Linked DNA regions of Homo sapiens: region 2 is linked to region 1. A link means that fine-mapping ties the variant in region 1 to the expression of a gene that starts in the linked region. Tissue or cell type: whole blood. Region 1 holds a variant in brackets; the other region holds the start of a gene. All regions are shown on one strand. Distances are between the middles of the regions.

Region 1 (16,348 bases):
AAACAAAACATGCAATAAAGTATGGTTATTTTTCCTGTGATGAACATTTTGTAGTCATCCATTTAAAGTTACTACAATGGCTGTTATATTAAGATAAGAACGGATGACCCAGAAAGAGTTCATATTAAACATGCACAAAGAAATTAACTAGACTATACATATGGTCCTCAGGAAACAGAAAAGAAATTAAAGAGATTAGTTAAGTGAAGTAACATTCCATGAAGCCTTGTATACCTAGATCACAGCAGGGGAAAATTTCTAAGAAAAGAGTAACAGAATACAGGGCTTATACAAAGGCCATAAATAGTATTAAGAGTAGCAAAAAAAGTTTGAGAAAAGGTGCTTTACTGAAAAGTGTTTTAGGTGTTTTACGACAACATCTTACTTTCAATAACATGTACTAGAAGAAAATTATACATGTTGGGAATGACACGCTCTTGCAAAAATATATATCTGAAATAAAACTTTTTAAACTTTTAAAAATAGTTTTGAAGTATAACTGATATATAATAAACTGAACATATTTAAACTGTATAAGTTTTAATCAAGATATAACACCTCTGAAACCAATACCACAAATAAATGATGTACATATTCATCACTTCCAAAAGAATCCTCATGCCCCTTTGTAATCTGTAATCTATCATCCCTCCTTTACTCCATTTCAGGCAACGACTGGCTTTGCTCTCTGTCATCACAGATTAGTTTGCATTTTTAAAAACTAGTCTGGGCACAGTGGCTCAGGCCTATAATCCCAGCACTTTGGGAGGCTGAGGCGGGTGGATCACCTGAGGTCAGGAATTCGAGACCAGTCTGGCCAACCTGGTGAAACCCCCAACGTGACTCTACCAAAAATACAAAAATTAGCCGAGCATGGTGGCACTTGCCTGTAATCCCAGCTACTTGGGAGGCTGAGGCATGATCATCGCTTGAACTCAGGAGGCGGAGGTTGCAATGAGCTGAAACAGCACCACTGCACTCCAGCCTGGGCGACAGAGCAATACTCTGTCACAAAAACAAAGATTAAGAAAAAAAATTTTTTAACATACATATGTATTGTCCTGCTTCTTTCACTCAGCATAATTATACTGAGATTCATCCATTTTGTTGCATGTATCAATAGTTCTTTTCTTTTTATCCATGTTATGGTATGGATATACCACAACATGTTTATACATTCACCTCTTGATGGACATTTAGGCTGTTTCTAGATCTGGCTCTTACAAATAAGTCTGCTATGAACCTTTGTGAACAAACACCTGTGTGGACATACACTTTCATTTCTTCCAGGTAAACAGTAAGAAGTAGAATAGCGGACCCATATGCTAAGTGTAGTTTTAATATTTTTACATACTGCCAAAATGTTTTCCAAAGAGTTTCAGCTTATCTACTTTCTCACCAACATGGAATAGAATCAGTCTGTATCATCGTGGCTATCCTGTTGAATGTGTAGTGGTAACTGTGATTTTAATTTGCAAGGAATAAAACTTTTAAAGGAATTTTTAAAAAGCATTCTCTTGGACCACAGAATACATCATAATAGAAAAAAATGAAGACAACACTGACAAAATGTTAAGCAATTTTTAAAAACATTTAAACATGGAGTTTTTCATAAAAAGATAACCAAAATATATTATTTACCCCTGCTTCGTGTTCTGCTTCTGCTTCTAGTCCTGCTTCTATCTCTGTCCCTCTCACGAAGCCTCTCTTTACTCCAACTTCGACTTCGACTCCTGCTATAACTGCGACTCCGCCCTCGTCTTCTATTGTACCGGTCTCTGTATGAATCTCTTCGAGGAGGGTTTCGATCATAATCTCTTTTGCGAGAACGATCATCTTTTTTCCTCTCATCACGGCTTCTAAAGAAATATGTGATCACTTTAATACAAATAATTTTTAAGTGACACAGGAAAAAGCTAATTAAATGCAAAAGTTACATTTAATTCTTGTAACTTAACTTTCTATCCTACCATCAGACAACTGAAAAAACTGAGCTTAATATTCAGTACTTTAAATCCCTTTTAAATGAAAAACAATCTTTTTAAAGCCTTAACCCTTAGTCTTATTACACATTGGCAACTATACAATTAGGCATCTGTAGATAAAGGCATCTGTATATAAGACTTAGAGTACATATAGAACATACTATCCCGTACATATAATCTCACTTACAGACATGTATCACATGCATTGTATTCTAAGTGCTTTTGAAGCCTGAATGAGAAAAACAATTTAATCACACTAAATGGAAACAGCAGGCAAAAAAAAAACACCCACACATTAAGATTCTACTGGAATCTGAAGTTAGGAATAAAAAGATAAGCAGCTAATATATGTCAAGCACTGTTCTAAACTCACTCCCAAGATCTACAAATCTGACCTAGATTTTCATGGTAGAAACGGACCTAGTTATATTTTCCTAGACCAATAAAAGAGTAGATATTACTTGCCTCTGCGTAAAAGATAACCCAAGTCTAAACATTTGTATAAAAGATAACTTACATCGAAACACTGAGTATGGTTCAATGAACTGCTCACCTATTTTCCCTGTATCGGGAGCTTGACTGGGGAGGACTGTGATTTAGCCTTCTAGAAAACTTCTTCTCTCGCTCTTCCTCCTTAGTGATCTGATTAAAAAAAAAAAAAAAAGTGTACAAGTTTAGTAATTATTCCACTGTTAAATAGCCTTAGATAGGGCTGGGCACAGTGGTTCATGCCTGTAATGCCAGCACTTTGGGAGGCTGAGGCGGGTGGTTCACGAAGTCGGAAGTTCGACACCAGCCTGGCCAACATGGTGAAACCCTGTCTCTACTAAAAATACAAAGATTAGCTGGGCACAGTGGCAGGGGCCTGTAATCCCAGCTACTCTGGAGGCTGAGGAAAGAGAATCGCTTGAACCTGGCAGGCAGAGGTTGCAGTGAGCTGAGATCGCGCCAGTGCACACTCCAGCCTGGGCGACAGAGTGAGGCTCTGCCTCAAAACAAACAAACAAACAAAAAAAAGCCTTAGACACATTACTGCTTTAATGACTTTATTAACATTAACATTTAATTAACATTAAATAAAATTTAATTAACATTAAAATTAGTTTATATAACGTAGAAGCAAAATTGTCATCTTCTAAAATTATCCAAACAAAGTAAATTTCTCTACTAAGTATAATCATTTAACTATAATGAAATGATTACATTGGTGAGAAAACATTTTAAGCAAGTATGCTCATTTAACATAATTAATGGAAATCCAATTTTATTCCTCTTTCAAAAGTCTAACATATATTCATGTTTTGGTTTCGTGGACTTGGTGTGGTACCAAACACATCAAGGAATATAGGAGAATACATTAGAACTCACCAAGTCATAAATACATACACACACACAAACATATACATGTTTATATATATAAATATATATTTACATATTATATATATTTATGTATCATATTGTAATTTATTATATATTTTATATTATATATAATTATATGATATATATTATAATTATATGATATATATTTATAATAAATATTTTATATAAATATATTATATATTATATAAATATAAATATATTTATAATATTTTATATGCTATATAAAATATATCTTATATATTACATATTTTATATAATATATAAGATATATCTTATATATTACATATTTTATATAATATATAAGATATATCTTATATATTACATATTTTATATAATATATAAGATATATCTTATATATTACATATTTTATATAATATATAAGATATATCTTATATATTACATATTTTATATAATATATAAGATATATCTTATATATTACATATTTTATATAATATATAAGATATATCTTATATATTATATATTTTATGTATTATATATTTATATAAATTTTTATATAAATATATAAAATATATAAAAATATATAAATATATATAAATATGTATATGTTTATGTGTGTATGTATTTATGACTTGGTGAGTTCTAATGTATTTATATATTTATATATAAATATATAAAAATATAAATAAATATATATAAATATAAAATATATATTATATATAAATAAAATATATAAATATATAATATATATTATATATAAATATATATAATATATATTATATACTATATATAAATAAAATATAAATATATATTATATATTATATATAAATATATATAATATGTATAAATATACAAATATATATAATATGTATAAATATACTTATTTATATATATTACTATATATATTTATATAATATATTTATATATTACTATATATATTTATATAATATATTTATATATTACTATATATATTTATATAGTATATTTATATATTATATATTACTATATATATTTATATAGTCTATTTATATATTTATATATTATATATTACTATATATAATAATATATAATATTTTATATATATATATTACTATATATAATAATATATAATATTTTATATATATATATCTGGGAAAACAATATATAAGGTGAAATAGTTCTCCAGTTTCTCACAGCAGCATGACAGCTATATATTTCTGTTTCCTACAAGGTGCCTCCATTCACATTATATAGCTACTAGAAAGCAACCTTGGAAAATATTCTCAGTGCTACTTTCTCCAGACTATATTGTTGAGAATAATGGTCCTCAACAACAGGAACGACAGGAATCACTGTTTTTCTAGGTAATTAGAAAAAGGGACTTAGAGGTTGAACAAATTCAGGAAATATCGTGCAAGTGGCTTCTATAAATAAGATAGGGCTCAAGATTTTGTGTTACTGAGAACCATAAGATATTCTCATGCAGGTAGTCTACGCACAGGGTACACATGTCCCAGTTTATGCCAGCTGTTCCAGCATCCTTTTGATAAGGGCTTCTGACTGTCAGAATGTACCACTTTATGCTGGGCACAGTGGCTCACACCTATAATCCCAGCACTTTTAAAGGCAGAGGTGGGTGGATCACTTGAGGTCAGCAGTTTAAGACCAGCCTGGCCAACACGCTGAAATATCATCTCTACTAAAAATACAAAAATTAGCTGGGCATGGTGGCACGCGCCTGTAATCCCAAAAGGGGATTACAGGAGGGATACTTGGGAGGCTGAGAGAGGAGAATTGCTTGAACCCAGGAGGCAGAGGTTGCAGTGAGCCACTATGGGGCCACGACACTCCAGCCTGGGCAATAGACTAAGACTCCGTCTCAAAAAACAAACAAAAAAAAGTGTGCCACTTTAGATGAGAAATCAAATGGAAATCCTATTAACAGACCAAACTAGGAGAAATAATCTTTAAAGCATTCTTTCAACAGTTTGCCTTTTTAAATTCAAGTACTTTCGTACTCTTTCCACCTATTCCAGCTCTCCTCCCAGACCAGACAAAAAACCGGGTACTAATACGACCCTTCTGATGCACTCTTTCCCTTCTATTTCCTCAATGCACTTTTGCGAGTTATCTAACAGATCACCATATTCCACAGTACATGCCCATCTGCAAACTTTTAGTATAGCCACAGCATTTTAAACGTAGATTGCCATCTGGCATTTCAACAATTCTGAAAGATCAGGGATAAGTATCTCCCACAATTGGTTGAAAAAACAGGAAGTATTATTACATCAATAGATAATAAGACTAAGGCTTTGCTACTAACTCGATTTAGGGGAAGACTACTCAAGCCAAGGGACTGTGATTTACTCAAGATTTTCTGAGAATTAAAGCATACATATAATATATATATTATATATATTTTATACATTTTTTATATACTATATATTTATATTTTTATATATTTATATGATATATATAAATATATATTTATATATATCATATAAATATATATTTATATTTTAAAAATAAATAATATATATTATTCATATTTATATATATTATATATATAT[A/T]TTTTTTTTTTGAGACGGAGTTTAGCTCTTGTCACACAGGCTGGAGTGCAATGGCATGGTCTCAGCTCACTACAACCTCTGCCTCCCAGGTTCAAGCGATTCTCCTGTCTCAGCTTCTCGAGTAACTGGGATTACAGGCACCTGCCACCATGCCTGGCTAATTTTTGTTTTTAGTAGCGACAGGGTTTCACCATATTGGCCAAGCTGGTCTTGAACTCCTGACCTAAGGTGATCCACCCGCCTCAGCCTCCCAAAGTGCTGGAATTACAGGCGAGAGCCACAGTGCCCAGCCAAAGTATAATTTTTCACAGCAAAAATCTGAAACCAAACCAAAGTTCCACCAGTAGGCAAAACTTGAATAAACCATTGCATATCTCTATGTTGCATAAGCAATTGCCAACACAATATACACCGTCCCTTTCTTCCTAACAGAACCCTTATACTGTTAGGTATGAAATAGGTTCAGTTATAAATTACATTTCTGGTCTTCCCAGGCAGATAAAACTGATTGGGATGTTACATGTGGGTATGTGTATATGAAAATATACAAATATACATGTGTGTAAATATATTCAGATAGAGATATAAATATATTTGAGATTACATATTATAATATATATTTTATTGCATAATAAAATGTATTATTTATATGTAATCTGGAAAAAGCATAAAAGGAGAAAAAAAGGTCACAACATCAACATCTCTTACAATCTCAAAAATGACAGCAGCTACCATTTACTGAGAACCTACCATGTGCCACATGTGAAAAGTAAAATAATGTATATAAAGCACTTGATTGGTGCTTTATATACATTATTTTACTTATTCCTCACAAGAACCTTTAATATTTCCATTTCGCAGCTGAGTAAAATGAGGCTCAGAAAAGTAATGTTTTCAAGGTCACAAACCAGTGATTTGTAGAACCAAAATTTTAACCAAGATATGTGTGACCTAAAGCTAGGGCTAAATGCAGAAACATAATGGCTTGACTGCCAACAATTATTTTCACTAAAATTATAGTTTGTTTGTTTTTTTTTTCCAGACAGGGTCTTGCTCAGTTGCCTAGGCTGCAGTGTAATGCTTTGATCTGCACCCTCAGGCTCTGGGGCTCAAGCAGTTCTCCCACCTCAGCCCCTCAAGTAGTTGGGACTACAAGCATGCACCACCCCATCACACCTGGCTAATTTTAAAATTTTTTTCATAAGAGATGAGGTCTCACTATATAACCCAGACTGGTCTCAAACTCCTGGGCTCAAGTGAGCCTCCTGCCTCAGCCTCCCAGAGTGCTGGGATTACAGGCATGAGCCACCACGCTCACCCTGGCCAAATTATAATCTTTTAACATCAAATTGAAAAGATATAAATTATTATATGACTAGTAACTAAGGGTGAAGAGAGAAGGTTGTAAAATACACACAAAAATTTTGGGACCTCTTGAAGTATGAAGTCATATCCACTGTCTTGTGAAGGTCCTTGTGTTTTACTACCTTAAAAACAGTCCCCTACTAAATACATGTATGACAAAAGCAAACAGACCAATTGTCAACCTAATTATTTTCATAGAACAGATATTAAGACTCTATGTCTGTAAGATATTGTGCAGAGTAAAAGCAGGCCTGACAATACTAACCTTAGAAAGCCAGCATGCTTGTAAGGCTGGCTCCTGGGCACTTTGATTTCTCGAGGGTTCCCATTACCCCCTGATAAGGAATGGTTCACTATGCCTGAATTAGTTATGAAACAATATGGTCTACACTGAACATCTGCCTTCCTCCCAGGAGTCTGGAATTTTGGTACATACTAGGTAGGCGGTGCCTATGTGACCAGTTCCAAATAAGAACGCAGGGCAGAGTTTCTAAGGAGCTTGCCTAATTCCCATGTGTTGTTACAGTTCACTGCTAGGGGAATTAAGCACATCCTGTGCAACTCTGAGGACTTTGTAAGCTTGTGCTTGTTTTCCACTGGACTTGGCCTCATACACCTTTTCCATTTGCTGACTTTGCTTTATATCCTTTTGCTGAAATAAGCCAGGGCCATAAGCACAATTATATGCAGAGTCCTATGAGTCCTCCTAGAAAAATCATTTAAACTGGGAGTGGTCCTGAGGACTCCAACACAAAGATATAGAAGATAAAAACTCAGTTTGGTTATTCCTCTTATGTGTTTAAATAACCTGTAAGGTATTAACACAAATCGTTACCTCTTCCTTCTTTATATCTTTTTCTTGGTGTGGAAAAAATTCTACCTTCAGGCTTCCTGATGATGGCTGCTCTGGAGGAGGTAGGTAACTCTTTGTATTCACAGCATCAAAAAGTTTTTCCACAAATATCTGTGTCTCTAAAAATAAAACCAAACACCATAGATTAAAACACATTTGTTAAGATTAATTCCCCGCTTCCACATCTCTTATCTCTAATATGATGAAACATACCTTGACTTTTATAAACTAGAAAATATACTAGCACTGGCCAGGCGTGGTGGCTTACGTCTGTAATCCCAGCACTTTGGGAGGCCAAGGCAGGTGGATCACCTGAGGTCAGGAGTTCAAAACCAGCCTCGCCAGCCCTGTCTCCACAAAAATTAGCCAGGCATGATGGCAGGTGCCTGTAATTCCAGATACTAGGGAGGCTGAGGCAGGAGAATCACTTGAACCCAGGAGGCAGAGACTGCAGTGAGCCGAGATCGCGCCACTGCACTCAAGATCACGCCATTGCACTCCCGCCTGGGTGACAGAGCAAGACTCCGTCTCAAAAAAAAAAAAGTAAAAAGAAAGAAAATATCCTAATATCAACAGCTTCCCAACCAGTGTGCCATGGCACAAGTCCTGAGGCAATACTGATTCATGCTATTTTCAAGACGGTAGGGACTGGAATGGTCGCAGCCCTCTGGGCTAGTCACCTCCAGCCATGACTAAGTCTTCTCCACATCGCCTACTCAGTGTTGCAAACACAAACACTATCATAATCTAGATGTGGCAAGGTACAAAAAGCTGAAAAGCAATGCGCTAGGTAAGATTCAAAGCAGTTTCCTAAGCAGTACTGGCTTTAAATAAATAGGCAGTCATTTTCTTAATCTTTTAATCTATGTAAGAAAAAATATCAACATGCTTTAAGAATAAGCACATGGACATTACTGAGAGGTGGCATCCATTTTAAATAAGCTATGGATATACTCAATAATAATATTGTTTATTTAACTTTGTTAAAATTAGGGCTTCTTACCGAGTTCCTTTAATATTCTGTGGATAAACTTATTTTAAATAACTTTATTTATTTTTTTTGAGATGAGTCTCACTTTGTCGCCCAGGCTGGAGTGCAGTAGCGCGATCTCAGCTCACAGCAACCTCTGCCTCCCAGGTTCAAGCAATTCTCCTGCCTCAGCCTCCCGAGTAGCCGGGATTACAGGCACCCACCATCATGCCCGGCTAATTTTTATATTTTATGTAGAGACAGGGTTTCACCATGTTTGCCCGGCTGGTCTTGAACTCCTGACCTCAGGTGATCCACCCACCTCAGCCTCCCAAAGTGCTAGGATTACAGGCGTGAGCCACCATGCCAAGCCTTAAATAACTTTTTAAAATATAGTAGTATTTTTAAACCAAAGATCTTACCTTTCTGAAGAAATACATCCAGCTGATCAATACATAATGCCTTTAACTCTTTTTCACTTTTGTCTTTCTTTACCAAAGCCAGAACATATTTTGCTAGGGCGGATGGATCTGCATCACAGCTAAAGAAAAAAACCAATGTTGAAGAAAATTTAGCCAACTGCACATTCTACAAATTCCAGTTACAAACTGAATTAGTGAGAATAATAGTTAAGTGAGTTAATACATGTAAAAAGCACCCGGGTCACAGAGGACCTTGAAGAAATTTAAGTTCTCTTTATACTAACACTCCTTAATGCTATGTGTAGCCATTTTATTTCTTAAAAACATACCCATCAGTATATTAGTTTAAACAGCAAAAAAAGAAAGTCTAGAAATGGATCCAAATGTACTAGGAATTCAGATTTTATAAAAGTGGCATCCAAACCAACTAAGAAGAGATAAATTATGCAATAAACAGTATTGAGGCCAGGCACAGTGAATCAGTCCTGTAATGACAGCACCTTGGGAGACCTAGGCGGGCAGATCGCTTGAGCCCAGGAGTTCAAGACCAGTCTGGGCAAAATGGCGAAACCCAGTCTCTACCAAAAAAAAAAAAAAAAAAAAAAAAAATTAGGCATGGTAGTGTGTGCCTGTAGTCCCAGCTACTCGGGAGGCTGAGGGAGAAGAATCATCTGAGCCCAGAAGTTCAAAGCTGCAGTGATTTGGGATCACGTCACTGCATTCCAGTCTGGGTGACAAAGTAAGAACCCTATCTCAAAAAAAAAAGAAAATGTATTGAGACAACTTGGCAGTTGCCTTTTACAAAATAAACTTGGAAACATGTCAGAGGAAAACACAATTTATTTAACCCTGGAGTAAGGAAGACACAAAATCCATATTATCAAAAAAGTAATGTGATTATAAAAAACAGAACAAAAAAAAAAACTCAGAATGAAGAGTCAACCAATGAAAAACAAGCTCAGTTTATCTCATCACAAAAAGGCTAATTCCCCTAACCCACAGTGTTTTTACCGAGACTAACATTATAAGAGAAAAAAAGACAAAGGATATGAATAGATGCTAAAACATAAAATAAATAAAAATGACTCTTAAATGAGTAAAAATTCAACCTCACCCATAAGAGAAATACAAATTTAAGTTACACTGAAATATTTTTCAGTTATCAGGTTGGCAAAATCCAATAAATATGAAAATGTATTCTGGTGGCAAGACTAATGAAAACGCAATTCTAAACATGAGCTGGTGTGAGTAAACTGGTAGCTGATAGAATACTCTGGTAGTATCAAGGTCACAAATGCAATTTACATCTACGAATTTATTCTACACATATACTCACGTGTTCAAAATGACATGTGTACAAGTTATTCATTGTCATATTGATTGTAAAATCAAAAATGTGCACATGTCCATTTAGAGAGAACTGGAAAAATAAACTGTATTAAAATCCACACAAAAGAATGACATGTAGCAAAAAGATAAAAAGACAGGTAATGAAGTTTTCAACCCCTAAAGAAATCTTCATATCAATTCATTAAATTTAAAATGCAAGACAAAGAAAAGGTTTGTATAGTATTTGCCATTTGTGTTGGGGGAGAAGAGAGAAATCTGGTTTATATATATGTGGAAGGATAAATAAACTACGGCTATCTGGACAGGATGATAGTATGAACTAAGTAAAGGAGGGACAGGGTAAGAAGGGAAAGTTTTTAAAAAAAAAAAACCACATAATAATTGTATGTATTCATAGAGTACAATGTGATATTTTGATACCTGTATGCAATGTGTAATGAACAACCAGGGTAATTAGCCTATCTATCACCTAAAACATTTATTTCTTTGTGTTGGGAACATTCAAAATCTTCTCTTCTAGCTATCTGAAAATATATAATAAATTAACTGTAGTTACCCTACAGTGTTAAACAACACTAGAACTTACTCATCCAATCCAGCGTAATTTTGTATCTGTTAACCAACCTCTCCCTATCTCCCTACCACCCTTCCCAGCATTTGGTAACCACTATTCTACTTTCTACTTATATGAGACCAACTTATTTAGCTCCCATATATGAGTGGTAACATACAGCATTAATCTTTCTGTGCCTGGTTTATTTCAATTAACAATGTCAGGACGGGAAATTTTTGATGTCTGAACTATTTTCATCCAATTCAAAAGAATGATATAATTGTTTATAACTAAGCTAAAATTATTAAGATTTTACAAGTTAGAGTAACTAACAATAAAATAATAGCAGTAGTTAATTACTAACACTTACTCAACAATTACTAACACTTACTCAACACCTAGTTTGTGCCATGAACTGCACTTCTAATTTTACATACTATATTGGGCTCTCACTTTACTGATAAAGAAACTGAGGTTCAGAGAAAAGCTAAGTAGACTTCCCAAGACTACACAGCAAGGAAATGAATCAAGATTTAAAACTAAATCTCATACTCCAAAGTCCACATTCTTAACCACCACACTAGACTGCCTCTTACAACGAGGTGCCAGAAACCTGACTTCCAATTTACTTTTTAAACACCTAGAGTTACAGTCACTCCCTATCAACCAAATCAACCAGACATCAACCAAACTAGACATCAAGCTAAACATATTTCAATTTACTGGAAATCATTATGATACATAATAATATTATTATGTTTTATTGCAACTGCTGTATATAAATTCAGTCTACACTGAGTCTAAATGCTGTAATTTAATATTGGTTTGATTGTTGTGGTGAATTTTTAACTTATTAGTGGTTTTTCCAGTAACTTACCTGTCATTTTTCAATTCTCTCAACGAAATACCAAATCTATTTCATTTTTGCACCATTATTTTTTAAATAGGACATTTTAAAACTGAATTAAAATGTTAGCAGCTAAAAATCTAGAGGAAGGCTTTCATGATTTTTATAATTATTATGGTCTATAAACCACAGTTGGATAAAACAGCAAGACAGAATTAAAGAAGAATCTCTGCTCAACATCTTCTGTAGAAGCAATCTGAACTGAATAAAAAACGATTAGCCACAACAAATATACTACCATATACAGTTCTAAATCCTTGAAATAATTTGAAAGGCAGATGACTTTTTAACATTTGTTAAAAGTTCAAATTATATAGAAGCAGGGGTTATAATTTCACATTTAATGGCAAAACAACTGAATTTGCATTTGGGAAACAATTTTTCTTAAGTCCTACAAGAAGTTCCATTTTTACTTCAATATTTTTGAAAACAAAAAGCTGAGTAAAAAATATGGACCACAGAAATTTAATAATATACTGAAATGTTATGTATCAGGAACAGAAAGGCAAAACCTATGTTCTCTTTTCTATTTGTCTTAAATGTTATATTATCTGAACTTCTAGTGATGATGTTATGCAAAGTCAATTAAATAAACATTCAAATTAACTAATTAAAAAAACTATATTCATATAGCAAATTATTTTTAAAAATTATCTCCATGGCTAGCAAGATTGTTCGAGGTACTTTACCAGTTGCCACTGCTGATAAAAGGTTTGTAATTTGAATGATCTATATCTTGTCAGAGCTAGACTTTTCTTTACCCCTGCTATATACTGCTAGCATCCTGAAAATGTGTGAAAGAAAAAGCAGACCTGAAATTGCCTTATAGATCGGGGAAAAAAAGAATCAAGTTTTGAAAAGTATTTCTTAGCTCCCACAAACAACAAAATCTGCCAATAAAGTATGATTATGATCACCAAGTGCTCCAACTGCAATTACTCTTCTGTGTGTGTGTTGGGGCTGGTGAGGGAGCAGAATACAAACAAAAGCAAAAACTACAAAATAAGGCATGAGATCTAACTCAACAATAGCATTTGTAGAAGGCAAATAGAAGGTGAAAACTTAAGCACTTTAGTAAACGGTTAAGTTAAAGGAAATGAAAGTGTGAAATGGCTGGGGGGGAAACATAAATTATAAACATGCAATAAAACAGAAAACTGAGAACTAGACAGGAAAGAGTGCTGCTCTCCTATGCAGTAGAGTGTTAGTGCTTTCAGTTCTAGGTTCCACCTTTATAAATGCATAAACAAACTCAAACAGATTCTTAGAAAATGACCAAGATGGTAAATGGATATCATTATTAGATGGTTTTCTAGGGATTCTCAGCCTAGAGAACTGAAATGTCAGAGAGAACTTGGTAAGTCTTCAAATAATTGAAAAGTTATCACAAGGAAAAAGGATTACATTTGTCCAATATATCCTCCAAGGAATGTAACTAAAGCCAGTAAGCAGAAGCAGCCAAACAGGTTTTGGCTTAAAATAGAGATAGGCTTTTTTTTTTTAAAATAATCAGAGGCCTCCCAAAGGCAGAATAAACTGCCTGAGGGTTCTCCTTCATTAGAATGGTTTCAAGCATAGGCTGAACAGCTCTTGGCAAATAAGCACTGGACTGGATAGTAAATCCCACACAAGTATCAATGAGTAAAATCATTAGGTTTAAATCTGTTCATAAGATACTGTGCAAATATATGAAATATAAAATAACACATTAGTCTGTTCAATTACTGATCTACATATATTAGTAATAGAAAAGCATTTTTTAAAAATTACACTGTAGATAAAATACACACTACAAAAGATCTGAAACATATTAATAGTTACTAAGAGAGAGAATATACATACAAATATATGTCTCACTAGATCAATGGCTCATTTCTGTCAGGGAATCTTTCATCTTCATATAAAGTTTGATGAATAAAATAAGAAAATAAGTATGTTGGGTTTAGTGATTATCGTCCAAATATCGCATTCATTATTCAAGAAAATTTTAAAAGCACCTACTCTGTCACTGTTCTAGATCCTGAAAATACAACTTTTAGAAACATCACTGTTGCCACGGAATTTACATTGGGGGGTGGGGGGAACCAATATGCATATTACACAAACATACGTTTATAGTATGTATTGTCATGTAGACACGTGCTCTGAGGAAAAATCCAGGTTGAAAAGATAAAGTGTAAAGGAGGAGAAAGGAAGAAAGGTAAGGAGAAAGAAAACAGAAAAGATAAAACAAGTATTATTTAAGATCATCAAGGAAGGACTCTGTTGAAGGGACATTTAAACAGGGATCTGAATTTAGATAGGAATGGAAATGGAATGCAAATATGCTTTATGGCTATCCGGAAAAGAAAAAATTTTAAAAAGCCCAGGCCAAGGGAACCCATCAGAAAGAGCCTAAGGCCTACTTGACCTTCTTGACACATATGAGGGACAGGAGTCCAGTGAAATGGAGCAAAGTGAGCATTCACGAACACTGGGGTTTCCAATTTTAATTCTCCAAGGATTTCAAATTAACTGCTTCAGTGAGCTTTGGCAAATTAAATTTCCAAATCACTATGAAGTCATTCACATCAATGATTTTAAAGGCATAAAAATAAAACTTTGTCAATTCCTGAATATACTGTGTTAAGGATACAGCTAATAAAGTTTTTTTTTTTTTTTTCTTTTCATTTCATTTTTTTAGAGACAAAGTCTTGCTGTTACCCAGGCTGGAGGGCGGTGGTGCAATCATGGTTCATTGAAACCTTGAACTCCTGCCAAGAGATCCTCCCACCGCTGCCTCCCCAGTAGCTAGGACTACAGGTGCACACAACTACACCTGGCTAATTTTTGTTTGGGTGTACAAATAGGGTCTTGCTCTGTTGACCAGGCTGGTTTCGAACTCCTGGCCTCAAGTGATCCTTCTTCCTCGGCCTCCCAAAGTGTTGGGATTTACAGGTGAGAGCAATAGTGCCCAGCTGGCATCTTTGTTTTTAAAAACAGTTCAGTTGGAGACTTCCAGCTTCATGCATACCCTTTAAAAGCATAGAAGTGACCATCTAAGAAGGTCATTCTCTTCCAACTATATCTGGGGTGGAGAGGGAAGTACACACACTAAAGTTACAGAAGCCAAATTAATACAGAAAATCAAATGTTATAATAAAATATCTTTAAAAACTAAATATTCTTAACAAGAAACAAATCACCTCTGGAAATAAAGGTTGTACTAATCCCCCAACACACCCATAGTGTGTTTTAGTTTTTCAGATTTTCAAAACAGTAATGAGACCGTAAAGAAAGCTATAATACTCCAATACAATATTTCAAAAAGTTTGTTTTGCACGAGTTTCTTGGAGACTTTAGAAATTCAGTAGAATATAACTCACGGAATTTAACCCAAGCTTCCATGTTCAGTAATCTTGAAAAGAAGCTGGAGGTGGTAGTGGGAATTAAAAATTAAATTTAAATATGTTAACTGAGTAACTTTAGAACACGGATATGCACCCACGTCTGTTCTTTCCAAATTTTCATTTTATATTCAGGAAAAATATCTAATTTGCATCAAAGTCATGATTTTATATTCTGTACTTAGAATTACTCTTTTAAAAATCCAAATTTCATTGCAGCAAGCATAATACATACATTGAAAATTTTAATTGTAGTTTATTACATGCTTCACTTAATTCAAACAAGAAAGCAAAAATAGATTACTTATATACAGTAATTAGTTACAGCAAAGACTACTCATTAAGAGTTATTATACACCCAGTTCATTCTACAAAATAAAATCAAAATATAAGCATATCTAAATATGATCCATCCTTGAGCATCACACAATCTATTAATACTTCTTCATCACTGCAAAATGTATCACAATACATGTAATTATAACACTGAAAACTATTGGCCAGTTCTTTTATTCCCCCACATCATTCCAAGAAATAGCATGATTCCATCTTACTTTTAGAACAGTGGTTCTCAAACTTTTTGGTATCAGGAGCCCTCTATGCTTTAAAAATAGGAACCACTCCAAACAGCTTTTTATTTAAAAGAGTTATATCAATATTTATCAAG
Region 2 (16,348 bases), 28 kb after region 1:
TAAGAAAAAAATTCTCAATCTGGTAAAAGGCAGTTACTAAAAACCTAGAGCCAATATCAGTAATACTGAAACATTTAATCTCTTTCCCTTTAGACTGGAAACAAGACATGGACGTCCACTCTTACTACTTCAACATTGTACTATTGCTTCTAGCCAGCATGATAAGAAATGAAGGTATATTGGGAGGTTGAGGCAGGCGGATCATGAGGTCAGGAGATCGAGACCATCCTGGCTAACACGATGAAACCCTGTCGTCTCTACTAAAAATGAAAAAAAAAAGTTAGCCGGGTGTGGTGGCACGTGCCTGTAGTCTCAGTTACTCGGAAGACTGAGGCAGGAGAATCGCGTGAACCCGGGAGGTGGAGGCTGCAGTGAGCTGAGATCACGCCACTGCAATCCAGCCTGGGCAACAAACCAGACTCCATCTCAAAAAAAAAAAAAAAAAAAAAAAGAAATGAAGGTATAAAAATCAGAAAATTGTCATTACTCATAGATGATGAGATTGGTAGAAGAAAATTCCACAGAATCTATAAAATAGCTACTAGAATAAGTACACTTGGTAAAATTTCAGAATTCAACGTCAATATACAAATATATTTCTATATACTAACAATAAAAATCAGAAAATCAAAATTTTAAAAGCATTTGTAAAACATGTCGCAGAAAAAAATAACAAAAGAAATGCTTCTACATAGGTAAAATATCTCAAGAAGAATCACTAAGTAACAGATCTTGAACTTACTCCATTATTTAATACACACATAAAAGATACTAATAAAACCCTAAGTTAAAAATAAACTTTTACCTATTTCAAAGTTACTGCATGTAAATTGAAAAGACTTTTTCCACAGAAATAAAGTAGTAGGAGAGTAATGAGTAAGTCTAGTAGGAACAGCTTACCATTCATTCATTTCTCTCATTCATTCTTTTCTCTGGCACAAAGGAAGCAAGAAGAGGGAAAAAAATCTTACAAGCTATTTAGCTCAAGCTTCAGTTAGTCATTCTCAAGCTTAGGTTATGTACATAACTAACATGGGAATATTTTACATTTTGCTCATAATACAGTCCCTATCTCTCAGTTTAAGCATGTAAAATAATTTTGAGAAGCACTGTCAGCCAAAGATAAGGAAGTGCTAAAACATACAGAAAAAAAGTGCTAAATGCATTTTAACCACTCAGCATTCAGATGGAAAGGCCAAATAAGATTGCAGCAGCAAAATGTGATTATGAAAGTCAATTTATCACAAGTTAAGGGGATAAAGAAATAAAGAAAAATGTTTTAACCAATAATTATAGACTATTAACTCTTCTACCAGCTATAAAATTCATCAGGTTAGAATTACTATAATTCTTTTATGTGCAGCTCTATGGAGACAGCAATCTTGCACATAGCAACATTCAATAATACTTTAACAAGTAAATATTAATATACTTCAATGACCTTTCCCTCTCAAAGAAAAAAAAAATCTGAACTTAAGCTTTACCTAAACTGAAGATGCTAGGAGTAAAAATGGAAAGAAGTAGACCCAAAGACTACTTAATCTTCAAATAGCTCACATATCTGCTGTTCTGAAGTTGGGTAGATTCTATAGTTTTACCCAAATTATTGCCTCTTCCCTTGGTTTTAGGTACACAAACTTGAAATTTCAACTAACGCATTTAATAATCAGGTATATACTACACACAAAGCATTGTGCTAGATAATGTATATAATGAACAGGAACATAGTTAAATCTTAAGAGCTGGAGTCTGCTTTCAAGGGCCTGAGACTCTAATAATAAAGCTAAAATAACACGACTAAATAATTTAATGTACAAGTGATGAGTGTCATGACAACTGAAACCAGTGCTGAGAGAGAGGAGTCATGGTGGGAGGAGTCACTTCACCCAGCTGGATAGATCATAGGCAGCTTTCTGGAAGAACTGGAATCACACTTGATCTTTGACTTCAACACAAAGAAAGGATATAAAGACAGTACACCATAATACAACAAGGCTCTGGAATCAAAATGTCTTCTTTTGGATCCTGTCTCCATCACTTACTAGCTATGAATAAAGTATGCTAATTCATCTTCCTAACACCTATCTTGCACACAATGAATGTATAACAATTAACATATATTAATAGTAAGCACTCAATAAATGGTGCCCACTACTAATCTTCAGAAAAAAGAAACAGTAAAGTTTCAGAAAAAAGAAACAATAAAAAAAAATGACAGTGAATCACGAAAGTTCAGCTTTGCTGAAATTAAGACTCATATAAAAAGTAGAAAGATATAAATGGAAAAGATAATTTAAAGCAAATCATTAGCTTTCTTAAAGGCAAGCTAAAAAGTATGCAATTTATTATCTGGGAATGCTGAAGGTTTTGATCAAGCAATGGGATACAAACAAGGCTGGGCATCCATGTCAGAAGAACTGGAAGGGAGAAAGGCCTAGAGATAAAAACAGATTTGTTAGGAAGCAAACTGCAATCATTTAGATACGGAGTGTGAGCCCCCTACTAAGCAATGTCAGTAAGGATTATTAAGAGAGAACCTCATGACTAAGTGAATGGGAGGAAGGAGAAGCCAAAAAATTTCAAGCCAGCATAATTTGGAGAAATGAAATTAAAATAAGTGAATCCAGAAAACACTTCTTTTCAGAAATTAGTTTGAAGTTTAGATGAGCGATCCAAGCAGATATACAGCCAGCAATTAGAGATAAAAGCTTAAGACTGTGAAGAGTGGTTAAGTCTAAACATACTTATGTGAAAATAAATGCAGAGTAGAGGTTCTAGTTTGGAATCCATTAACAAGCTCAGAGTGAAAAGCTCTGAAATTCAATGCAAATGTGTATGTATTTGTAAATCCTAGGGAGACAGTCTTTAATCAGACTTTAAAGGATCTACAATATACACTCCAAAAAAAGTTTTTAAGAACCACTGGCATGTATTACAAAGAAAACCATTCATGGGAAAGGTCTTAGTCCGTTTGTGCTGCTATAACAGAATACCACAAGATGGGTAATTTATAAAGAAATTTATTGGCTCACAGTTCTGGAGGCTGGGAAGTCTCATATCAAGGTACTGGCAGGTTTGGCAATTCTGATTCCAAGATAGACCTTGAACACTGCATCCTCCGGAGTTCCTCCCATGGCAGAAGTCAGAGGTCTCCCATAGCAGAAGTCAGAGGGGCAGAGGCAAAACCTAACCTTTTATAAAGGCATTAATCCAATCAACAAAGGCAGAGCCCTCGTGACCTAATCACCTCTTAATACTTAACGAAATTAAATTTCAACATGAATTCTGGAGAAGACAAACATTCAAATCTTAGCAGTAATTAATGAAATGTCAGAAGTAAAAAATGGATGAAGAAAAAAATGTCAATGTAACAACACTGAAAAATACAATTAGAATCTGAAGAAAAGGAACAAAAGAGGGTAAGACTGACTTAAGAAAAGGAACCAACACATTAGGGATTCAAGGCAAGTAAGTTAAAAAGGTGGCATCAACACTGATGTTATACACGCATAGGGCAAAAAATATAAAACTTCAGGCAATAAATATAAATTGATTGGTAACACTGAGGTAAGTAATTTTGGTTGTAATTATATTACAACGAAGAAATTCTATTCCAAGACATTAAGAAGTAAATGGCTGAGGGCAAATTAACAAAAAATTAAAAGTCTGACTACTACTTCAAGATTTACCAGCGACAGGAACAGAAAGCTAGCAAGAAAGTGACTAGAAGCGTTTTATCTTTTGTTTTGTTTTTTGCTATTATTGCTGAGTTTTTCCTAAAGAATGGGAAATGGACTTACTATGCCAAAAGAAGCCAACTGAAAAGGAAAGGTCAAAGGAATCAAAAATACTCAAAAGTTCAGGAGTAAAAAGATCATTTAGCCAACCCAAAAGAATAACTCTTCCTATCAGACACGAACAAAAATAAATTTTAATGTGGTGAGAAAGGTGTAGTAACAAGTACAGGTGAAGGGGAAAAATACTACAAAAACCACAAAGATGTTTATTTCTTAAACTCTAAAGCACTGATAATCACGATGCTTTAGAACTTTGTTCTTTTACAATAGTAGCCAATACTATCAAAATGTCATAGTAAAAAAGTATATGCAGTAACAGAAAACACTAGGATGCTGCATTCTGTAGTAGTAAATTAAGAATATGCACACAGCTCTAGAGTCAAAAAGCCTTAGTTTAAATCACTGTGGGCAAATAACTTCATGCTTCAGTGCCTCAGTATCATCACCTGCAAAATGGAGAGATAACAATGCTTACCTCATAAAACTTGTAAGTACAATAATACAAAATGTTTAACAACAATGCATACAGTTTAGGTGGTAGTCACAGCAGGAGTGTTGGTGATAATTCTAACAGTAGCAACAGTAGTAATGTAGCCTATCTGTGTTTAATCAACCAATATCTAAGAAAGGAGGGGAAGGGCAAGGCTCACAAACATGTGTCCCATTCAACCCTTTCAACTATAGATGGAAATACTGTAATTCTTCCTATTATACCAATAAGGAAAGAGGAGGTTTCTTTGCCTAGACAGCTAATAAATGGCAGAAGTGAGATTTGAATACTGATCTGGACACAGAGATCTTCCTTCCACCACACACTTCCTCCACAGCACTACACAGTGGCAGAAGCACAACACTAGGCATTTTGTTCTTTACTACTCAACTCACAAAACCTCAGTACGTCATTACATCCACCTGCCCCTCAATTTTATTTTCTAAAAAATTAAAGTTTCATTAGATGTTTAGGTGTCTCTTCAGGAAAAAAAAAAAAACATGACTTTGATGTGTAAGTCCACCTAAAAGTTTTAAATACAGTAGAAAGTGTTTTCTGTTTTTTTTGTTTGTTTAAAAGTTTACTACAACAAAGGAGCTTAATTTTTTTTTCAGGACTTCTCATCATCAAAACGAAATGTTAGAAAAAAGACTAACATTTAGTTTCATATTATTGGCAAGTATGACTAAGCAAATCTTTGAGATAACAAAACATCAATCTTAAGCATTTCAAGATGACAATTTTAATAAAGTTCAAAATTCTCAATTTATGAAAAAGACATTGAAAATTATTTTCAATAATTTATGAAACTCAGAACCCTGATACATGTACAGAAGTTATGAAACAGTAAATACAGATATGCAGACTTCTATTTCACGCTGAAAACACAGCCAGGCTTTTTTTTTTTTTTTTAAACATCCATCTGAAAACCCTCTTGCCCTAAAACCCTTCACTGGCTTCCCACTATCCTTCAATAACATCCAAAGTCTTAAACATGACTCAACAAAGTCCTGTGTGATCTGGCTCCTATCTCTGGAGCTTTCCACTGCCATTCTTCTCCTTTGCTTTTTTCTATTTCTTTCAATTCCTCCAACATATCTTTTTTGTCCATTTTTAGGACCTCCATACAATCTGTTCACCAAACCTATAACGCTTTCACAGGTCTCCAATCCCATCCTTTTGCCCCAGCAAAGTATTCTTCATCCTTCCAAGCTGAGATAAACATTACACCAGGGAAGTGTTTCCTGATGTTCCCAGACTTCAACACCTATCTTTCCTGCTAAATGGTAAATAAAATGAAGTGAGTCATTTCATGTCTTGTTACCTACTATATCTTGCACACTGCTTAGCACAGAGTAGGTTAAGTACTCTTAAAATAAATGTTTGCTGAATTAACACATTCAAAATGTGGAGTAAGTCCAAAACCATGAAGTATTTAACCACCACAGGTAACTAAAAAGTTTTATGTAAGTTTCAAGTTACAGCTTACCCTTGGTCCTCTGTATGTTCCTCTCTCAAACAGAGGTCGTTTGGTAATTACAATGTTAAAGCAAAAAAAAAAAAAAATTCCTTTTAGATAACAGATCATAACATTTCACAAAACCAACGTTAGAAACCACTGATCCATAATTGGGATCAGCTTTTATAAGTCATCATACAAAAGAATCCACCTGAAATGCAATTAAAAGGACAAGAACTTGAATAAGGGCTCAATTTTACCACAGCTACACACATTAGAAAAGGACCAATTACAATTCCCAGTGTCTAGGCTCTACTAGCAGAGCCTTATTTATTACAACATAATGACTGCAGTGCTACAGCCATCGAGAGTAGGCTTTATGATACATGGAATATGTTTCATTAAGACTAAAGAAAAATTACAAGCATACACTCTAAGTAGCTACAGTCTTCTCATTTAGGTAAGATGGAGGGATACGGCAGTAAATCTAATATGAAACTGAACGCTTAAAGGAAAGCTATTTCAATCCAAAACATTTATAAGTTTTGTATTCACCTAATAACTACTGAATGCTAATTACACACCAGACAGTAGTCTAAGATTTCCTTAATATACACCCATTATTTTCCCAATTTTACAGTTGAGGAAATGGAAGCCCTGAGTTAAGTAACTTACCCAATATCATACAGCTGGTAAGTGGCAGAGGCAGAATTCAAAGCCAGACATTCTGCTCCAGAGTTCTCCTCACCGCTATACTATGATGCCCACTCTCCAATACACCGAAATAGGACTTCCATCTGCACAACTCTACTCCAGTGAAACTATTTTGCTAAGGTTACCAATGACTTCCACTTTGCTAAATCTAAGGGCTACCTATTTGCCTCCATTTTTTCATGCATTCTGCAGCATTTCATAAACTCCTCTCTTTTGCCATACACTTGTTTTTTAATGACATAAAGCCCAGTTTTCCTCCTGCCTCAGTACTAGGCCCTCTTCTCTTCCCTACCTACACACTTTTTCTATGAAATTTCCCACAATGTCATCGTCTTAAATACTATCTGCATGACTCCAGATTTCTCCAGTCCTGTCCTGAGTTTTAGACTCATATATTCAATGATCTGCTATCACACTTAGCTGTATCCCACAGACTTCATACTTACTGTATTTATTATTATCAAAACTAGCCATCCACTTTCCTTCTCCCCTTAACCTGTTCTCTGCCTTCTCTAATATCACCCATTCTGTTGCTTGGGTTATCTAAGGCACCACCCTTGATTTCCCTTTCCCTCATCTCCCGCATTTAATCCATTAATTTTACTTATGAAATGTATTTGGATCTGCCTGTCTCCACCATCACTCTAATGCAAACTAGCCACATCTCTGCCTACAACACACTTCTGAATAATCTTCTTACTTCCATTCTTGCCCTTTCAGTCTCTACAAAATAGGCAGAGTTAAAACAAAATTAAATCAGTCCTTGTCTGCTTTAAATCATCTCACGTCTTCCCATACATGATGTGGCCCCTACCTACTTGTCCAACTTGTTGCCTTTATATCCTCTCCCTCATCACAAGGCTCTTTCCAGCCACAGTGGCCTTTCTCTTCCTGAAACACACCACAATCACTTCTGCTACAGGGCCTTTCATTTGCTCTTCCTTTTGCAAGGAATGTTCTTTTCCAAGACTTTGACACACATGGTCCCTTCTCTTTAGATGTTACTCCAATGTCACCTTCTCTGAGAGTCCTTCCTTGACCAATGTGAAATAGCCCCCCTCATAATCACTTTTACATGATTCTCTATTATTACAATAGTCACAACTCTATTAATATCTGGATTTATTTATGTCTTGTCGATTTTAGAATTTAAAAGCTCTATCCCCAAAGCCTCCCGTAGTATACAGTAGGTACCTAATAACTTTATTAAATACGTGAATTTTCCCCATTGCATTATTGTAAATCAACCAATTCTGATTAAGCACTTTGGTCCATGTCATATTTTGTATTAACAAGTCGTCAAAACACTCCTTAAATTTTCCAATCTAAGACTATTTCAGCACTCTAACCGCAGCCCCCAACACAAAATCTATCTATAGCATCCCACTTAAAACTGCTAAATATTCCATATGGATGAAGATTCAATTTTCTTCCTCCTCTCCAAGCTAACGAACGCGTAGGCGGGAAAGGGGAATTTTACTGGCCACCTCAGCACCTGTTACATCTTCAATCAGTGAAGAGAGGTGCAGATGAGCCAGACAGCACATGGGAGACGTGGCCTTGCTTTCAGGAATTATATTTAGGTGAAACGTGAGTGATTTAAGCTAGAACTGCCCGAATCCCCAATAAAGGCCGTCTACTTCATTTAGAAAAACAAGGTAAAATAATCTGTAGGAAGTAAAATACAGTCGGTTTCACTAAAATAAACCGATTTTGAGGCCCCCGGAAAATATTGCGGGTGGGGGTTGGAGACGGTCTATATATAACGGGAAAACGAGAGCAGCTCAGCAATAAAATAAAGCTCGACTCAGGCTCTCGGGGGTATCCTGAATCTGGAAGCGAGGTGGACGAGGAGGAGAAGCCACAGAACCCTGGGACCTCCGTTCACCGCTTCGGCCTCCACCGCAGGCACTTGGGGAAACTGCACAGATCTCTGGGTCCGCCTATCTCCCACTGCCATCCCTGCAAAGAGATATCCCCCGGATACTCACATGGGCTCGAGAGTCTTGCTGAGCCAGGACTTGAGTGCCTCGAAGTTTTCAATGATCATTTTAGAAACCATCCACAGCGGCCCTAAGGCCCGTCACACTCCTCCGCCCGCCCAGGTCGCGGCCGCTACAGCCGCCGCTGCCCCCGCCCCCTCCTCCGCGCGCCGCCCGCGTGGGCCGCGGTGGGAGGCGCCGGTGGCAGGTTCCCGCGGGCCCCGGTCGGCGAACAGCTCTGCAAGGACCGCCGCAGGCCACAAGTGCACGGGGTGCCAGGAGCTCCCCGTCCCCGGCCCCCAGCCCGGGCTGAAACAGCAACGGTTTGCCCGGGCCCTCCCCCTTCCCTCTTCCCCAGCAAATCTACCCAGACCGGAAGCGCGACACGCGCTTAGACCCGAGCCTTCTCTCAGCCTCGGGACCAGGTGCTTGTTGGCTACGTCGAAAAGGCAAAAGTAAAGAAAGCGAAGGCGAAGGGCAGCTCAATGGGAACGATTCAGGGGGTCTTCCCGGCTCCCAGCACCCCCAAGAAGATGGCTGCCGGTAAATCTCGCGAGAATTGATGAAGTCTCGCGGTGGCTCCCGGAGCCTGCTGGGAGAGACGTAAGGTCGGCGGAGAATGCGCGGGTCGAGTGCTGTAGTTCGATTTTTGCGTGTGTGCGTTGCTTGCGGCCTTTGTGCCTTTTTATTCTTTGCTTACCTTTATGATATAAAGACCTTATTTCTTACAAGGAGGAAAAGACCGCTGACTTCAGAAACAGCGGGAACCCCAGCTCGTCCCCGGTAAGACGGCCGTGGCCTGTCAGCTGGAACGGTCCTGCCGGATGGATCGCTCTTTGAGAGCGTACACTCCCGCGTGCGCGACACCAGGCGGCCCGTAGGTTCCAGGTGCCGAGCACACTACCTCCTCAGTTTACCTAAGTGCCCTACCAGTATCATATTCTGTGTATGCTGTGATGTGAACGAGGTTTGTAAACACAGGCTGGTCTAATGGAGCCCAATGAGACCGCCAGAGGATTAGTGTCTTGTCCAACAGTACTTGACTTGCTGGTAGAGCCCTAATGACTGAGGGCTGCCCACAAGGGAAAGGTGAGAGAACCTTCACGTCTCTCAGGTAGTTTCCAGCCTGCACTTTCCCCCAGCTAAAGATAAGTTTTGTTATTTTTAAAATTCTCTTTATTTAGAGCAAATTCAGCCCTATCTCAGATCGGGAAATTATATAGTATCAAAAGAGAGAGTCTTCATATTAGCAACCCAAATAAATAAACTATTTTCCTGGGTGATCAAATAAGTTTGATTCCTGCTTGAGTTCTATTTAGATACTAGGTGGAATTTTACAAAGGGTCTACGTTCCATGAACTGTAATGGAATGAAAATATTCACAATCTAAAGACATTTTCAGTAAGTAGATCAATAAAAGCTCTTTATGAGAGACACCGATAGGCTAAATTGTTCTTAGGAACTCTTGAGTTTATAATTTGCTAGAGTGAAGTGTCTTTAAGGATTAGGTGGAAAGATTATGAACTACAAAGCAAGACATTTGTTTTAAAATACAGCATATAGAGTAGAATACAAATTAGAATCCAGCTACTGAATAACCAGGGTGTTGATTAAAGTGATTTAGCTGAGTGAAATAAACCAGACATGAAAGGACAAATATTATGATTCCACTTACATTAAGTACCTAGAGTAGTCAAAACTCCTAGAGACAGAAGGTGGAATGGTAGCAAGAGCAGGGGTGGAGAGGGTGCCCAGGAGAAGGGGAAATGAGGAGTTATATTTCAGTGGATAATAGAGTTTCAGTTTAGGATGATTTAGATTCTGGAGATGAGTGGTGTTGTGTGGGTTGCACAATATGAATGTACTTAATGCAGTGGACCATATACTTAATGAAAACGGTAGGTTTTATATGTATTTTACAATAAAAATTGTTTATAAATTTAATACTGCCGAAAGTTAAAATTATATTTGTTTAGTCTGTTTGTTGTAGCCTTGCCACAGGCTGACGCCACCAATATTTTCAACCTTATCACCAGCTACTCCATTACTCTGGCTCTCCACTTCAGCCTTCCAAAGCTTCTATCAAATACTGTATACCCCAGATAAACTGATTTGCTCACCCTCCCTTTCTCCAAACATTTGTTCACTTTATTTTCCACAGAGAACGCTTCTACTTCTTTCCCTGACTGCTCAAACTTTGCCCATCCATCTCTCATACCACTGTCACTGTCTTATTTAAAGTCTTTTATTCTTCCTAAATAATAGCAAAAGCCTTTTAATATCTTTGCCTTTTATGCTGACCTCCATCTCAGTTCATCTTCAGTTGCCCTCATCATCATTGCCTTTAATAGCAGTAATTCTAAAATTTTGATCTAATCATGTCACTTTCTTGCTTAAAATCTTCAACTTCCACATTATCTTTAGAATAAAACACATTATTTAACATCCTATAAAGGGACTTTCATAAATCAGACACCTTCCTTTTTGCCTAGAAACTCCTTTCAGTCTTTGCTCCAGCCATCCTAAACTATTTTGAGTTCCTTAAAATAAGTTGTTCCATGAAAAGGCCCTTTATGCAAAGTGCCCCCCAAACATCAAAGGAGAAATCAAATGAACAAAGCAGACAAATCCAGTTTGGTCAGTAAAGAGTGTTTTGTTGGGGGTAACTTACAGACAGAAGCATGGTCTTCAGTGGCAGCAAGACAGGTAGATGTCTGCCCTTTTACTCCCCAGACCAGTACTTACATGCCATAAGGAAAGGGTGTACGTACTCTATAGAGACATTTAAAGGCAACCCTCCAGACAGGCAAGAATGCTATATGCATCATAGCCTGTAATTTGTGTGATAACATCAGGGTTGCTTTGTTGTTAAACTAAGGACAGTAAATAAAGTAATAATCACAGGGCTGGGGTTAATCAGAAGGCAACATGACAAATTAGCATTCAAGAGGGAGTAAACGTTTGTCTCCACAGAAGTGTGTCCTCTCACTAAATTGAGCCATTGCAAAATGTGTTTCTCTACCTTTCATTTGATAGATTCCTACTTAAGCGTCAAAATGCAGTGCATACAGCATCGCCTTTGGAAATCCATCTTTGACCTCCCTTCTGTAAAGCGAGAGTCCCTCTGAGATTTTCTGACATCAGCCTGTGATTGCTTCTTTTATAGCACTCATAGCTTTATTTTTGCAAGTATGTGATTATCTGTTCTTTAGTGGATTATAGCTTTGAATCCCCCGCTTCAAGAACAGCTGCTAATATATACAGCCAATCCTTATTCACGGTGGTTCTGTAAAAAAGCCACAAATGCTGAATTAGTGAATATGGAACCATTGCTCCTAGGAGAAATGCAGGATTAGGTTCCTTCAAGCCTCTTATTAAATGTTTGTCAACCAGCCCATAAATACCTTGTTTTATGTGTGTTTCTTTTTAAAGGCACCTTATGTAGGAAAAAAAAAAATTTTTAAGGCACCTTATTTAATATAGTTGATTCATTAACATTGAACTCACAGCCAGTGGCACTATAACTCATGCTTACCTGGCGTATGTATTTTCTCTTTAAAAAGAAAGAAGAGCCTTCTGGCACTTAGGGACCCAGATAGCCTCATCACTACACTTGGGGGGCATTTTAAACAGTGAAATCACAAAAAGGTCAAAAATGCAACAAATGTGGCCTTAAATAGACCATGAAAAGGACACTTGTTTCCAGTGTGAGAGCTAAAACAGGAAGGCAGAGCATCCCCTTGTTTCACCAAAGCTGGGAACATGTGCATCAGGTGACTCAAATTTTTTTGCCTCTGTTCATGTCGACAGATGACTGCAAAAGCATTCCAAGTATTGATTTGGGCATTGCAAATAAATTTTAGCAAGTAGGCAAACTCACAAATACAGAATCTGTAAGTAATAAGGATTAACTATATTTTTTGAATGACCAAAGGAAGCCGTACCACTTCCATGAAACCTTTCCTGGCCACTGTGGCTGATAGCAGTATCTTCCTCCTCTAAATTTATGGTACAGTGCTTATTATCACTTCACAGTTAGTCATTTTTGCTTCCTAGAATGCTTCTCTTCCTTAACCATTAACATTTATCCTTCATTTATCCCTGCTTCATCTTCTTTGGCCCTGCCTTCAAAGGCGACAATTAGCTGATGTAATCATCAATTCTACTAAGAGAAGACTAAACAGCTGCTGTGGACTACTTTCTCTATTCAGTAACATGTACATTTTGGAATGTCCAGTATCAGGTTGCCTGCTTAACGTTTTCCAATACACCATGTTCTTTCAAGGCCATGTGACTTTATTAGCACTGTTCCTTTTGCCAGAATGATTTTCCTTATTGCTCAAATGTCAGTACCTCAATGATACCCTGGACAAAGGTCTAGCTCCCTACCTGTAGAACAGGAGTTAAAACATTTACTGGGAAGAGATTGTGAGGACAGATAAAAATAAAACATTTTATTTAGTTTTCTCATCTTTCTCGGCCTTGTGAGCTCTTTTAAGGACTGGACTCAAGTTTATTCCTCTTTCTACGTCCTGCACTTAACTCAGTGTCTGAAACTCAAAAAATGTTTATTGAAGACACATGCTTCGTTTTAAATAGGAAGGAAGCAGAGGCAGGAGAAAATATTTTAGATAGGCAAGAGAATGATATGCCCTCTAACAGATCTGTATTTCTTTATGGTTTATTACCATAAGTTGCCTTCATCTTTTAGCTGCACCAATCCCAGGAATATTCTCTATAGTGTGCTGAACTCCTCCTCAGGTTTTTCCAGCTCTCTCCTCTAGTTGAATACAGTCTTACTACTCTCAATAGTGCTTTTGAAGTCTTGTTTAAAAACAGTCAGCATTTCCGGATCAAAAAGAGATTCTGTATTTTCTTCTATTTCTTTTGCAGTCCATTACTCTACTTAGAATCACACTTAAGTATTTATTCTCTCTGTAATACATCCCTGTTTGTGGTGTAAAGTGAGGATCTAGGCCATTTTTTTTTTCTATAAGTCTACTCACTCAGTTTATTCTTTCCTGTTGATTTTTTTCTTTTTTTTTTTTTTTTTTTCCTGGGACAGAGTCTGACACCATCTCCAATGCTGGAGTGCAGTGGCGCAATCTTGGCTCACTGCAACCTCTGCCTCCCAGGTTCAAGCAGTTCTACCTCAGCCTCCCAAGTAGCTGGGACTATAGGTGTGCACCACCATGCCCATCTAATTAGAGAGGGCGTTTCACCATGTTGGCCATGCTATTCTTGAACTCCTGGCCTCAAGTGATCGGCCCGCCTCGGCCTCCTAAAGTGTTGGGATTACAGGCGTGAGCCACCGTGCCTAGCTTCCTTCCTGTTTGATTTTTGATGCCACTTATATCTTTCTGTTTTCATTTCATTTGTGTTCTGCTTCTGACCTATTTTTCAATTGGTCAGCTTGTCTGTGACTACTCCAGTACTATGTTGCTTTTATTTACTATTGTATTATAGAATATCTTAATATATAATAAGGCAAATCCCTCTTCTTTGCTCTTTTTCAAATTTAGCTTGGCTAAATATGAATCTTGGTCTGGCACAGTGGCTCACACCTATAACCCCAGCACTTTGGGAGGCCGAGGCAGGCGGATCACTTGAGGTCAGGAGTTCAAGACCGGCCTGGCCAACATGGTGAAACCCCATCTCTACTAAAAATACAAAAATTAGCCAGGTGTGTTGGCACACACCTGTAGTACCCAGCCCAGAGGCTGAGGTGGGAGAATCGCTTGAACCTGGGAAGTGGAGTTGTCGGTGAGCCGAGATTGAGCCACTGTACTCCAGCCTTGGCGACAGAGTGAAACTACGTCTAAATAAATAAATAAATAAATAAATAAATAAATAAATGTGAACCTTTAGTTTCCAAATACATAGAACAAGATTGTTGAACTTGTAAACAAAAAATTCTTCATCATTGAAGTTATGGATTAATTTGGATTGAATTGACATCCTACAGTGTATAGCAGTCACAGAGGTGTGCAGCTCAGATCTCCCTTCAAGAAAGGACTCACTGCCCAACTGCAAGGAGGATAGTTACCTGACAGCTTCCAGTTGTTAACTCTTTCTAGGTTCACCTCAGCTTTCAAGTTGAAGTTACACTGTTCTCAGGGAAAACCCTCTCCCCCATGCCCATCCGCAGCTCAAGACTGAGCAAGGGATAAGGACCTGCTCGATATTGGGATGGCAGAAGTATTGTCAGACCTGCATGGTAATCTAATGGCTCTCCCACCCAATTCTGCTTCCCCCCTTTCCATTTCACAGGTGCTACTTTCCAGTAAACTTTTTGCACTTTTAACCCCATCTCAGCATCCACTTCCCAGAGAACACCATAACACAAATTTAATCATCTGATTCATTCTATTTTTGTACATTTTAAAAATCGTAGTTAATAATAAAATTATAAGTATTATGAAAGAGGAAACTAAGAACCATTTTAGCAATTTAGACTGTAAAGGCTCAAGCATGGTTTCTCTAAGGATATGATATTTAAATGGTTAAGAAAAGTGAATAATGAGTAAAAGTCGAAACAAGAACATTCCAGCATACATAATAGCTTGTAGGATGTTCCTGAGGTAAAGAAGAGTCAGGATCTTAAGGACAGAGTGGTGGGAGGGTATCAAATTGGGGACATAGGGAATGGCTGTCAGTCAAGTTAGAGGTAAAAAAATTTCATGTTAAGATTTTGGAACTGGATTTTATTTAAAATAATGATGCGAAGCCATTGAAAGGTTTTTGGTGTGACAGGATAAATTTAAAATATGAACACACCAACGCATACTTCTTTTAAGAAAGAACCTGATTAAATTTGGGAATTTTAAAATAAAAACAGGAAGCATATCGTACTCTAATATAATAATTCAAGGGTTTTTATTTTCCTAGAAGATCAAGGTCATGTTAATAAAGGGAATATAGTTTTCTTATCTGTGTTAAGACACTGATGACTTGCAAAGAAAAGTAACACTTTTGTGATATCCTTAGGTAATTCAAGAGGAAACGCTTGAGCAATTACTGATGTTGTAAACTGGGATCAGAAGACATACATGGTATCGTATCCCAGGCAAGGCACAGTGGCTCACACCTGTAATCCCAGCACTTTGGGAGGCTGAAGAAGGCAGATCACTTGAGGTCAGGAGTTCGAGACCAGCCTGGCTTACATGGTGAAACCCATCTCTACTGAACATACAAAAATTAGCTGGACATGATGGTGAGTTCCTGTAATCCCAGCTACTTGGAAGGGAGGCTGAGGCAGGAGAATCACTTGAACCCAGGACGCAGAGGTTGCAGTGAACCGAGATTGCGCCACTGTACTCCAGCCTGAGCAACAGGGCAATAGAGCGAGACTCCATCTCAAAAAAAAAAAAAAAAAAAACCATACTATCATATCCCCCTAAATTGAACCAGAGCACTTCTGGCATAAAAAGCTTTTTTAAGGCCGAGCGCAGTGGCTCACGCCTGTAATCCCAGCACTTTGGGAGGCTGACGGGTGGATTACCTGAGGTCAGGAGTTTGAGACCAGCCTGGCCAACATGGCAAAACCATGTCTCTATTATAATACAAAAATTAGCCAAGCCCAGTGGCACACACCTGTAATCCCAGCTACTTGGAAGGCCGAGGCAGGAGAATCACTTGAACACAGGAGGCGAAGGTTGCAGCAAGCCAAGATCACGCCACTGCACTCCAGCCTGGGAAACAGACTGAGACCCTGTCTCAAAAAAACAAAAAGCTTTTTTTGTTTTTTGTTTTTTATGTGTGTGTGATGGAGTCTCTCTGTGTCACACAGGCTAGAGTGCGGTGGCATAATCTCAGCTCACTACAACCTCTGCCTCCTGGGCTCAAGTGATCCTCTCACCTCAGCCTCCTGAGTAACTGGGACCACAGGCACATGCCACCCACGCCT

What was found. PIP is the estimated chance that this variant, and not a neighbour inherited with it, causes the effect.
Region 2: it holds the start of RBM26, and the variant in region 1 is fine-mapped to the expression of RBM26 in whole blood (INTERVAL, PIP above 0.99).

The regions. Positions count from the first base shown.
Region 1 is chr13:79,369,304-79,385,651 of GRCh38, forward strand. RBM26 (RNA binding motif protein 26) reads right to left here. Exons shown (of 22, transcript NM_001366735.2): 2 at 9,486-9,604; 3 at 8,076-8,212; 4 at 2,539-2,627; 5 at 1,642-1,859. Among named protein-coding and RNA genes, the nearest start is that of RBM26, 29 kb to the right of the region's middle. The variant A/T (reference allele first, on the strand shown) is at 5,876.
Region 2 is chr13:79,397,253-79,413,600 of GRCh38, forward strand. It overlaps RBM26 (RNA binding motif protein 26), which reads right to left and starts at 9,003. Exons shown (of 22, transcript NM_001366735.2): 1 at 8,452-9,003. The coding sequence starts at 8,522. It overlaps RBM26-AS1 (RBM26 antisense RNA 1), which reads left to right and starts at 9,057. Exons shown (of 7, transcript NR_038991.1): 1 at 9,057-9,225; 2 at 15,430-15,655. RefSeq lists a silencer at 8,559-8,758 and enhancers at 8,668-9,659, 8,989-9,288.